3 linked regions of the Homo sapiens genome follow. The protein of the gene in region 1 purifies or fractionates together with the protein of each later gene. This does not show direct contact. Each region holds a gene or a part of one and is shown on either strand. Other genes may lie near its edges. The genes, in order: PCCB, SCCPDH and LARS2.

The links.
Region 2: the proteins of PCCB (region 1) and SCCPDH fractionate together in Homo sapiens (co-fractionation; one large-scale study listed by BioGRID). This does not show direct contact.
Region 3: the proteins of PCCB (region 1) and LARS2 purify together in Homo sapiens (affinity purification with mass spectrometry; one large-scale study listed by BioGRID and IntAct). This does not show direct contact.

The regions. Positions count from the first base shown.
Region 1 is NC_000003.12:136,248,752-136,252,503, forward strand, and holds the start of PCCB (propionyl-CoA carboxylase beta chain, mitochondrial isoform 1 precursor), read left to right. Parts: upstream 1-1,588; 5' UTR 1,589-1,624; coding exon 1,625-1,807; intron 1,808-3,752. UniProt on the Homo sapiens protein: This is one of the 2 subunits of the biotin-dependent propionyl-CoA carboxylase (PCC), a mitochondrial enzyme involved in the catabolism of odd chain fatty acids, branched-chain amino acids isoleucine, threonine, methionine, and valine and other metabolites.
Region 2 is NC_000001.11:246,755,335-246,758,986, forward strand, and holds part of SCCPDH (saccharopine dehydrogenase-like oxidoreductase), read left to right. Parts: intron 1-2,891; coding exon 2,892-3,022; intron 3,023-3,652.
Region 3 is NC_000003.12:45,517,485-45,521,136, forward strand, and holds part of LARS2 (leucine--tRNA ligase, mitochondrial), read left to right. Parts: intron 1-418; coding exon 419-588; intron 589-2,734; coding exon 2,735-2,812; intron 2,813-3,652.

The sequences.
Region 1 (3,752 bases):
ATTTGTACTTTATGAAGGCCCTGGCTATGAGCTGGATCTGGGAAGGGCTCATGATCAACTTTAGCAGTTTTCTGTGGCTAAAAATGAGAAATATAAACCATGTTCTTTGTCTTGAAGACCTGCCTGTTAGTGGGAGAAACAGATGGTCAAGCTCTCAACAGTACAATTCCAAATTCCTAGAGCAGTGGTTCTTAAACTTTAGCAAGCAGATCAGAATCACCTAAAGGTCATCTGCTAAAACAGATGGCTGGCCCCAGCCCCAGAGTTTCTGATTTAAAGGTCTGGAGTAAGTTCTGAGAATTCGAGCTTGCATTTCCAACTCACTCCCAGGTGATACTGAAGTTGCTGGATTGACAAGATTCCCTCCTTGATCAAACATTGGTCAGGCTCTTCTGAGCTCTCTCTTTGACTAGGCCTGAGTGTGGGCTCCCATGTCATTCCTTGTGGAATTCCATTTTAGCAAGAAACTTGCCAAGTCAGTTTAGCCAGAATCCTCCATTCTTGATATCTGATTACTCTCCATATCTGGTTTTGACCCATACCGCCACCATCCCCCAGGTGATGTTCAGTTACCCTGACCTGCCTTGGGCAGGAATCCTGTTAGGTCAATTTAGCCAGATTCCCCGCCAATGTTTCCTCTTAGTAATTTTCCATCCACTGACTTCCACACACTGCCCCTTAGCTATAAATTACCACTTTGCTATATTCAGCCCAATCGCTCTGACTTATGGCAAAACTCTATCCCTACCTCTGTCAGATTGGGCCTGAATAAAGTTTGCCTTACCATTCTTAAACATGAATAATTAAGTGTCATGAATAGTTTTTTCTTTAATGGGATCCATACTTTGAGAACTACTGATTAGAGGTTAAGGGTCCTGTGCTCATTATCTGGCACATATTAATGATAGGTCTCTGAGTTTGAATCCTGGCCAACCACATTGTCAGTCTTGGCTTTTTTTTTTTTTTTTTTTTGAGACAGGGTTTTGCCCAGGCTGGAGTGCAGTGATGCAATCACGGCTCACTGCAGCCTCGACTTCCTGGGCCAAGCCATCCTGCCGCCTTAGCCTCCCGAGTAGCTGGGGTCACAGGTGCAAGCCGCCATGCCCAGCTAATTTTTAATTTTTTTGTAGAGGTGGGGTCTTACTATATTGCTCAGGCTGGTCTTGGGCTCCTGGGCTCACCTACCTCGGCCTCAGTCTTGCCTCTTGATCAAATCACTCATCTCTCTGTGCTTGATTTACCTCATCTGTGAAATCCAGATAGTAAGCTAGTGCATGGTAAGTGCAAAAAGCAACACCTGGCACAATGCTTAATAAATGTTGGTTAAATCTTATAATCATTTTCTGTAGGAAGTGGGACGACAAAGTTAAGGGTCTAGGTGGTCAGAGAAGAGCAAGGACTATGTCCCTTTTTTGTGCAGCCAGGCAGGCCCTGTACTTTTTCTCTGCGCGACCCTCCTCGGGCAGCACCGGGTCTCGAACTCTCACGCCTTACTCCCAAGCAGGTTCTGTAGTCCAGCCCCCGCGGCTCCCTACAGCCAGCCGATGCTGCGCAAGCGCCGTACCCACGCTTTAGCACATGCGTACTCAGGTGCGCCGGTAGGGGACGCGCCGGCACAGCAAAAATGGCGGCGGCATTACGGGTGGCGGCGGTCGGGGCAAGGCTCAGCGTTCTGGCGAGCGGTCTCCGCGCCGCGGTCCGCAGCCTTTGCAGCCAGGCCACCTCTGTTAACGAACGCATCGAAAACAAGCGCCGGACCGCGCTGCTGGGAGGGGGCCAACGCCGTATTGACGCGCAGCACAAGCGAGTGAGTCCTGAGGGGCCTAAGTGAGTCCCGCCCCTGGCGTCCGCGACCTATCACTGCGTGCCCGGCTTGCGGCGTCCGAGGCCTCCCTGCCAATCCGCACGGTGCCTGGAGGGGCCGGAGCAAGGGTGTTCACCTTGAAAACCTGTAGCGTTTCTCGTGGAGGCGGGTATAACCAGCAGAAGCACCTGTGTGCTTTTTCATACTGTTTAACCCTTGGGATTTAGACGGATCTGGCTCGTCTCTAGCCAGCTCAACACTTAACATAAGCTTTTGGGCAACTTATTAAATCTCTGTGGGTCATTTTAATAATAATTCTTCCTTCACAAGTGTATCGTTAGACCATAGATAGCAAAATGATAGGCGCTCAGTAAAAACCATGTGCTTATTCTCGTGCCCCATGAAAGAGTGATGGTAGGTTCTTTCTCCTTTGTGGAAGCAGGAAAACTGAACTTGGGCATACTCCACTAACATGAAATGGGGGATGTGCGCGTGCAGGAACTTGTGGAACTTCTGCCCGCAGAATGCCTGGTCGAGCTCTTTAGGGCCTTAGCATGCCTCGCCTTGATGGGTAGCAAAGGCACGTGTCGGAAGCAGGTGGCCTTTCTGGGAGTGCGCAGGCTACTCTCGATGTTTGGCTGGACTGAGCAGTTGAAACACTGCCACCCACCGCCTGGGTTTTGAGGCGAGAATCCAGCTGGCCTTCAGAGATAAGCTGGGCGGCCCATTTTGGAGAGGTGATCCCTGACTTGAAACCAGGCTTGCCCAGTGTGTCCGTGACTGGTGGGTGAGTCTGGACCGTTGTGCTGAACGAATTAACCAACGGGAAGGTGCAGAAGTGAAACTCTTACAGATGAAGAGTATTCAGGCACAACTCACAACCATGAGGGAGGCACTGGGGGAGGGATGGGGTCTTAAAGTGAGGAGATTTGAACAGCTCTATATTTGTCTAATATTGATTCAGATGTCATAAATTCGCATTTGACAAGGGTCCAAAGGTAACAGTTCCTTTTGACACTTGAGAGTGAAATGTAAATTTAGTGATGGTTTGTGGTGCTAGGAGTGCTTTCTCTCCCCTGGGGCTACTTCTAACCTACTCTGTTAGGGCTGAGGGAGATGTTAGATCATCCTCTGGAAAGGCCTGTCAGTGCTCCTGTACACTCTTTCTGTTGGGGCCTATTGCTCAATTCTTCCCTGGAACATCGCCTAGCCCTTTCCCAGGTAGATCCTACTAGGTTTAGATGAAGCCTCCAGAAGCTGTTTTTCTTTTGCCAAAGTTAACTTAGGAGGCTGATTTAATATGAACCCCCTCCTGCACCCCTTTTTATTTTTATGTTTTGATACGGAGTTTTGCTCTTGTTGCCCAGGCTGGAGTGCCATGGTGCGATCTTGGCTCATTGCAACCTCTGCCTCCCAGGTTCAAGCTATTCTCCTGCCTCAGCCTCCCAAGTAGCTGGGATTACAGGTGCCCACGACCATGCCTGGCAACTTTTTTTTTGTATTTTTAGCAGAGACAGGGTTTCACCATGTTGGCCAGGCCGGTCTTGTACGCCTGACCTCAAGTGATTCACCCACCTTGGCGTCCCAAAGTGTTGGGATTATGGGTGTGAGCCACTGCACCCGGCCCTGCACCCCTTTTAAAACAATTTTTGACCATTTCCGTAGATTTTCCCAGAAGAGGAATTAGTGGGTCAAAGGGTGTAAGTTTATTTATTTTTTTTGAGACAGAGTTCACTCTGTTGCCCAGGCTAGAGTGCAGCAGCTCACTGCAACTTCTGCTTCCCAGCTTCAAGCAATTCTCCTGCCTCAGCCTCCAGAGTACCTGGGGTTACAGGTATGTGTCACCACATCTGGCTAATTTTTGTATTTTTAGTAGAGATGGAGTTTCACCATGTTGGCCAGGCTGGTCTTGAACTCCTGACCTCAGGTGATCCACCCGCGTCTGCCT
Region 2 (3,652 bases), on another chromosome or scaffold:
CTGAGAACAGGCAAGATATTCTTGAAAGAGAATAAGGCAGAAAGACACTCTTGGAGATCAAGACCTGTTATTAAGTCAGCATAAACCCTTGACATATGGTAAAGGGGCTTTTCCTATCATTTTTCTTTTCTTTTTACAAATCCACTTTTACTGGTATTTATTTACTTTTCATTAGTTCAAATCCTTGAGGAGTACAGCATCACAGAGCCGCCGTGACTAGTGGCCTAAGCAGGACGGCTGCTTTGGAATTAGGCACACATTGTGCCACTGTTTCCGTGGGCACACGTTACCTTTCTCCACCTTACTCTGGTTTTGTTTGGTTTGCTGCCAGGAGTCAGTATTATTCTTTGTACACATAAGCGCATTTCCTGCCCAAATCAAATCTCATTTTATGTCAGCCATAAATACCTTCAGTTTTAAGAAGAGCTGTGTCCTCCCTTTGGTTCTGGAGATCCTGCTGACGGCAAAAACGGCCTTGGACCACAGCTTTCCAGGCATACTTGTCATTTAGAATTCCTCCTCCCAGCAGGCCTCCGGGCTTCAAGTTGGCAGGAACAGCAAGGGGGCTTTTCGGTAGATGCTGCTGGGACAATTGAGTATCTACTTGGAGAAAAAATGGAATTGGATTCATACTTTTGCACCCCGTACCAAAATCAAGTTTAGATGGATTGTGGATGCCCTCACGGTTGGGAATGGCTTTTACAAAAAGACAAAGAGGCATTAAATGTAATGAAAAAGTGATACGTTTGTGTACTTTTAAAATTGAGAATGTTTCCCAAAACACACGATTAAGAAAGTCAAAAGGCTAGCTGCAATGTAGGAGTTACTTACAACACGTGGTAAATCCTGACATCACAATTTTGAGCATAAGAAGCCAAACACTCAGTAATAAATCTTGCTTGATTGCATTTCTGTAGAGCTTAGAAACAGGCAAAACTAATTGTACTGTTTAGGGATGAATTCTTAGGTGATTAAACTCTAAAGAAAAGAATTTTTCTTGATTACTGTAAAGGCAGGACGGAAGGAGGGCCTTCTTAGTTGCTGGTTACCTGTAGTTCTTGACCTGGATGTTTACATGTACGTTGGCTTCATAACATACATGAATATACAATTTAATAAAATTGTATTAGGTACGTCTCTATATTTTTCTGTGAAACGCAAATAGTTTTTTAAATTGAATGTAATTTTTTCCTTTTCAATGGCTTAGTTGTATAAGAAAATATGTTTAGATTTTTAAAAAGCTGTTTTCTCCTGGTGTTTGGAATCTTTACATTTGTAGAGATTCACATAGGCCCTTTTGGCTAGGCTCAGATTGAGTAGATAACAAATCAAACCTTTAAGACTTTAGTTCTGTTGTAGTTTTAATAAAACAGAAGAAATAAATCTGTACCAGAATGAAAGTTAGATTTGGTATCTCTGCTTTTCAGTATCATCAAAGCTGAGATAGGAAAACCTGAATCTTTGGATGGTTTTATTGTTTCTCTTATTTTGTTTATTAACAATGAAAGGTACCTTCATATCTGCCTCCCACATATCCCTCTTTGAAAATCTTGTGACAGAATTAGTTTTGAATCTTTCTGAATTACTCTGTTGACCTAAACAATGTAAACAACATAGAAGGAAGGACATAATACAATTATGTACAATCAATATAATAAATGAAGTTTATTCCTGTAATAGAGAATTAAAAGGCCCACCTAGAGGTTGGGAAAGAAAGGTCAGTGCTAGGCCGGGCGCGGTGGCTCATGCCTGCAATCCCAGCACTTTGGGAGGCCAAGGCGGGCGGCTTGCCTGAGGTCAGAAGTTCGAGACCAGCCTGGCCAACATGGTGAAACCCCGTCTTTACTAAAAATACAAAAATTAGCCAGGCATGGTGGTGGGCACCTGTAATCCCAGCTACTCGGGAGGTTGAGACAGGAGAATTGCTTGAACCTAGGAGGCAGAGGTTGCAGTGAGCTGAGATCGTGCCATTGCACTCCCGTCTGGGTGACAAGAGCAAGACTCTGTCTCAAAAAAAAAAAAAAAAAAAAAGGGCCAGCGCTGTGATAGTAAATTCAGAGGTCGTGTCCTCTCCTGGGGTCTCAGCCACTCGTTTCTCGGTGGCGCTAGAGGTAAGGGTTGGGGAAGCTGTAAAGAGTATTGGTAGAATGGAAGGCACTGACAGCCCAAAGTCTCATGAAAGGATGAAAAATCAGTGAATAAATGAGAGTCTGAGTAAGATCAGGCAAATACTAAGGACTCTGTACTGGCTGTGATACCAAAAAGAAATCAAGGGATTGAGGAAAGCAATTAAAATACAAATCATTATTAGTGAACTTTAAATGTTTTAAACAATTATTTTACTAAGACTTCAGTAGGAAGACAGATCTATAACTTGGGGCTAGAGTAAGAGGTGTTGGAGGTAGACGGGGAACCAGGTGTAACAGGATGGAGAGATGGACAGTACACAGTGTATGTATGCATAAATGTGCACACGGACATATCCAGAAATGTTGAGGAATTTGTGTAGGATCGAGAGAGGATTAGGGTGGCTATTCCTGCAGATCATATGGGGCAGAAAAAAAAGGATTAGAGTGGCTGATCTTGAAGGAATATGGTCAATTAGTTGAGTAAAATTGATGAAGTAAAACTAAATAACTTATTACAGAATATAAAGAATGATAGGAGGGGAGAAGAAAGGGCTTCTCGGTGTAAATATTGGGTATGATCAAGCTAATGAATGTGACTGCTCCCTAGCTGGTCATGAAAATTCTCCTCAAGATTATTAAATCAGGGATTATGTCTTGTCCAAATATAAGTGAAATATTGTTTGTAACAATGATAAGTTACTTGGCTTTACATTTTAGTAACTACCCTTTCATGTTTCTTTAACTCTTGAAATATTTTATTAGGGGTTGAGCATTCATGATGGTACCTGGAAGTCAGCAATTTATGGTTTTGGAGATCAGAGTAATTTGAGAAAACTAAGAAATGTATCAAATCTGAAACCTGTCCCGCTCATTGGTCCAAAATTGAAGAGAAGGTAAATTAACTTAAAATCCATTTTTTATATATCTAGTCTAAGTATATTGTTGTTGGGTTGGCTATTAATAAAGTATGTTACTAAGAAAAGCTTGGAGACTAATTTGTAGTAAGTTCAGAATTGTTTTCACAGATAAATAAGATATAATTAATCCATTACCATATGCTTGAGATAAATAAGATATAATTAATCCATTACCATAAGCTTAAGATAAATAAGACATAATTAATCCATTACCATAAGCTTAAGTACTTCGTGTGTAATAAAACATGTGAATCCTAGGAAATAAGTGAATCTTATGATGACTTTTCACTATCAATATAGAAATTAACTGTCAACTAAATTTTATGTGAGAACTTTTTTTCTTTTTTAAAAATTTATTTTAGTTTAGTTTTATACTGCAGGACATATGTGAGAAGTTTAGAGGTAAGAATTTAGGGTTGGGCTGTTGAAAGGAGCGTTCTGGTTTTTTTTTTCTTTTGAGACAGAGTCTCTCTTTGTTGCCCAAGTTGGTCTCAAAGTCCTGGCCTTAAGTGATCCTCCTGCCTCGGCCTCCCAAAGTGCTGGGATTACAGGCATGAGCCACCATGCCCTGCCACTGATTTGCTTATTCAGACATTTACCAGCCAA
Region 3 (3,652 bases), about 91 Mb from region 1:
AGTCATGCTATCCACAAGGTAAGAGCTTGCACCAGCAGGAGTCAGCACTGTCTCCAAAGCACCATGTTAACTCCATGGCATTTTTGTCCCAGCAAGCTTGCTTAATCAAGGCGGCGGGGCACCAGGGCTCATCTTGACCAAGCTTCTGAGCTCATGACCGTTGGTGGGTGGCACTTTGAGTGGCCCTGCCATCCAGTGCTCTGAATCTGGGCACTAAAATGAGATAGAATTGGTCCTGGTCTGAATTCTCAGACACTGAAGGCCAGGGAGGATCCTTCAGCCTGCCCTCAGAGGAATCCATCAGGGTGCAGTGAAGTGTCACATCAATTCACAGGTGTTTTTCTCTGCTTAGTTATACCAAGTCAATCACCCTTATGTTGCACGCTCTCTCTTTCTCATTTACTGATGCTGAATTCAGCTGATGCTCTCCCTGGGGTGCTGAGATGGCAACAACGACTGTGGACCTTGACAACTCGGTTTATTGAGGCCAGGGCTTCTGGGAAGTCTCCCCAGCCTCAGCTGCTGAGTAACAAGGAGAAAGCTGAGGCCAGGAAGCTCTGGGAGTACAAGAACTCCGTCATCTCTCAGGTCAGAAACTCTCCAATTCCAGGGGTTAACTCTGTAACCAAGCACTCTTTGGGAACCTTTGCCTGTGGTCTTTGCTGCCCTCCCTGCCTTGGGTTGGGCCACTGTGGGTCTTCCTTCCTGGCAATGGCGGTCCTTCTTGCTTTGATTGATTGGCCCTACTGTTTTGGGTACTTTACCAAGGTGGATCAACAGTGCATATGTTCTAATGGAAAGAGATGCCCCCAGGAAATGGCTCTCTGATGATGTCTCACATTTGTCCATCCTGGGTCTCAGGAAGCTGCCACTTTCCATGTTTCCACATTTAACACATCCAAGCAGAGAACCAAATCCAGGATCACCCTGTCATCCAGGATGACACCGCATATGTTACATTAACAGAAATACAATTTTAGAGTTGGAAGGGGCATTAAGAAACTATCCTCTGTAGCCTCCTCATTGTACAGATGGGGACAGAGATGATGTCCAGATATCTTGCCTAACGTCACACGGCTAGTGAGGAACTGAGCAGAGATTAGAATCCCAGTCCTCCACATAGTGAGGACTTTCCCACTCAGTTACTTTGTTACACAATATCCATGTGAACTATTGTGGGTTAATTTCTGCAAATCTGAAGTCATTGTAATGGGTATCTGATATCCCAAATTCTTCTTAAGCTGATTTAAAAAAAAAAAAGTTATGCTGATTCAGACATAAAGTTAATCAGTGTCGCTCATCTGCACTCTGATAATGAACACAATGATGCATGGCAGGTTTTTGCCTCTCTGGTTTGTATAACCTGAAGTGGCCCTGGGTCCAGCATGGTCTTATTTGTTGACACTTCTTCAGCTTTATTTCTGGCCTCTGTACCCTCTCTATGTGGAGGAACAGAGCTCCCTGAATGAATGTAGGGGTCTGAGTGATGCCTGAGCGATTGAGTTCATACCACATATTTTCTCCCTGGATTTGGCAAATTCTTCTATTCTGTCAGATAAAAGAATTAGGTTATTTCAACAAGTTGGAAACTCTTGACATCCTTAAAGATGTGTTACTTTTCTGTATTCTTGCCTATAGTCAAAATGGAAAAGCACAGAAACATGAAAAAGCTGACAAGCTGTGTTAATGTTCTTATGTTGACTGTACATTTCAAAATGTAAAATTGACAAGGCGCAGTGGCTCACACCTATAATCCCAGCACTTTGGGAGGCCAAGGCGGGCAGATCACAAGATCAAGAGATTGAGACCATCCTGGCTAACATGGTGAAACCCCGTTTCTACTAAAAACACAAAAAATTAGCCTGGCGTGGTGGCACGCGCCTGTAATCCCAGCTACTCGGGAGGCTGAAGCAGGAGAATCACTTGAACCTGGGAGGCAGAGGTTGCAGTGAGCTGAGATCGCACCACTGCACTCCAACTTGGGTGACAAAGCGAGTCTCCGTCTCAAAAAAAAAAAAAAAAGTAAAATTAACCTTATCCCATATTCTAAAAACCGTCACTGTGAAGCAAAGTCACATAACCAAGCAGAAGTGGCATCCTTTATTCCTGTTTTCTGTTATGTTGAGTTTACCCATCAGTGGGTCCTGCGTCCTATTCATGTTACTAGCATTGCTTTTTTTTTTGACAAAGTCTCACTCTGTTGCCCAGGCTGGAGTGCAATGGCGCAATCTCAGCTCACTGCAGGCTCCACCTCCCAGGTTCAAGAGATTCTCCTGCCTCAGCCTCCCAAGTAGCTGGGATTACAGGTATGCGCCACCACACCCGGCTAATTTTTTGTATTTTTGTAGAAATGGGGTTTTGCCACATTGGCCAGGCTGGTCTCGAACTCTTGACCTCAAGTAATCCACCCACCTCGGCCTTCCAAAGTGCTAGGATTACAGGTGTGAGCCACTGTGCCCAGCCACTAGCACTGTTTTTCTAAGCACCTACTATGAGAACCAACAGTATCCCAGATATGTGGAAGAATAGTCTTAAACAGTGGAAACAGTGTTGACTTTGAATTTTAAAATATTTGTGTAGATGAAACATAGCGATTATTTGAGATAGTAGATATATTTATAAATATCTTTGCATCCCATTCATTTTCCTTTTTTTTTGTTTTGATAATTCAGTCTTTTTGTGGAAAGCTTAAAAGAATTTTGAAATAAGTAAATAATTGAACCTTTACTAATAGGTGACCACCCATTTCACAGAGGACTTCTCACTGAATTCTGCAATTTCTCAGCTGATGGGACTCAGCAATGCCCTCTCGGTAAGTGGCCTGTCCTCATTTGCTGGTAGCAGAGGAGGGAGGGAGAGGTGTGGCAAGGGGCCCCACAGGGTCCCAAGAGGGACAGAGAGCACCCCCACTGTGTCACCGCCTCAGTGTGGCTTGATTATCTTAAGGAAACATTTTTCCATAGTCACAACCTAGTTTTATGCTGGAATGTTCTTAAAGATTTTCTGGTCCAAACCCCCTTCTCCCCCAATATTTTACAGATGAGGACATTGAGGCCCAGGGAAGTTAGATGACATGTCTGGTTGATTAGTGACAAATCTAGGACCAGACTCAGGCCTCCCTGTCTTCTGGCTCTTTGCACCCCCGCTGTCTGATTTCATGAATGAATTGTGATACCTCCTCGGCATCATTACATTTGATATTCATTTAACCTGGATGGATCAGGATCGTTCTCACCAATGCCAAAAGTCAGCCTTTTCAGTATGGACTTCCTTCTTGCTAAGTGTGACTACCATTTTTCTTGCCAGGGAAAGGATTTGTCAACAAATGTTCTTAGCTACTGGACAACAAAAGCATTCATTAAAGCTATTAACAAATGCTTTTTAAAAATGAAGTCCTCTCCAAGCTTTTAAGATCAGTGGGGGCCAGGCACAGTGGCTCATGCCTGTAATCTCAACGCTTTGGAAGACCAAGCTGAGAGGATCACTTGAGGCCAGGAGTTCAAGACCTGCCTGGGCCGCGTAGAAAATAAAATAATTAGGCCAGGCATGGTGGCTCACACCTGTAATCCCAGCACTTTGGGAGGCTGAGGCAGGCGGATCACGAGGTCAGGAGATCAAGACCATCCTGGCTAACACAGTGAAACCCCATCTC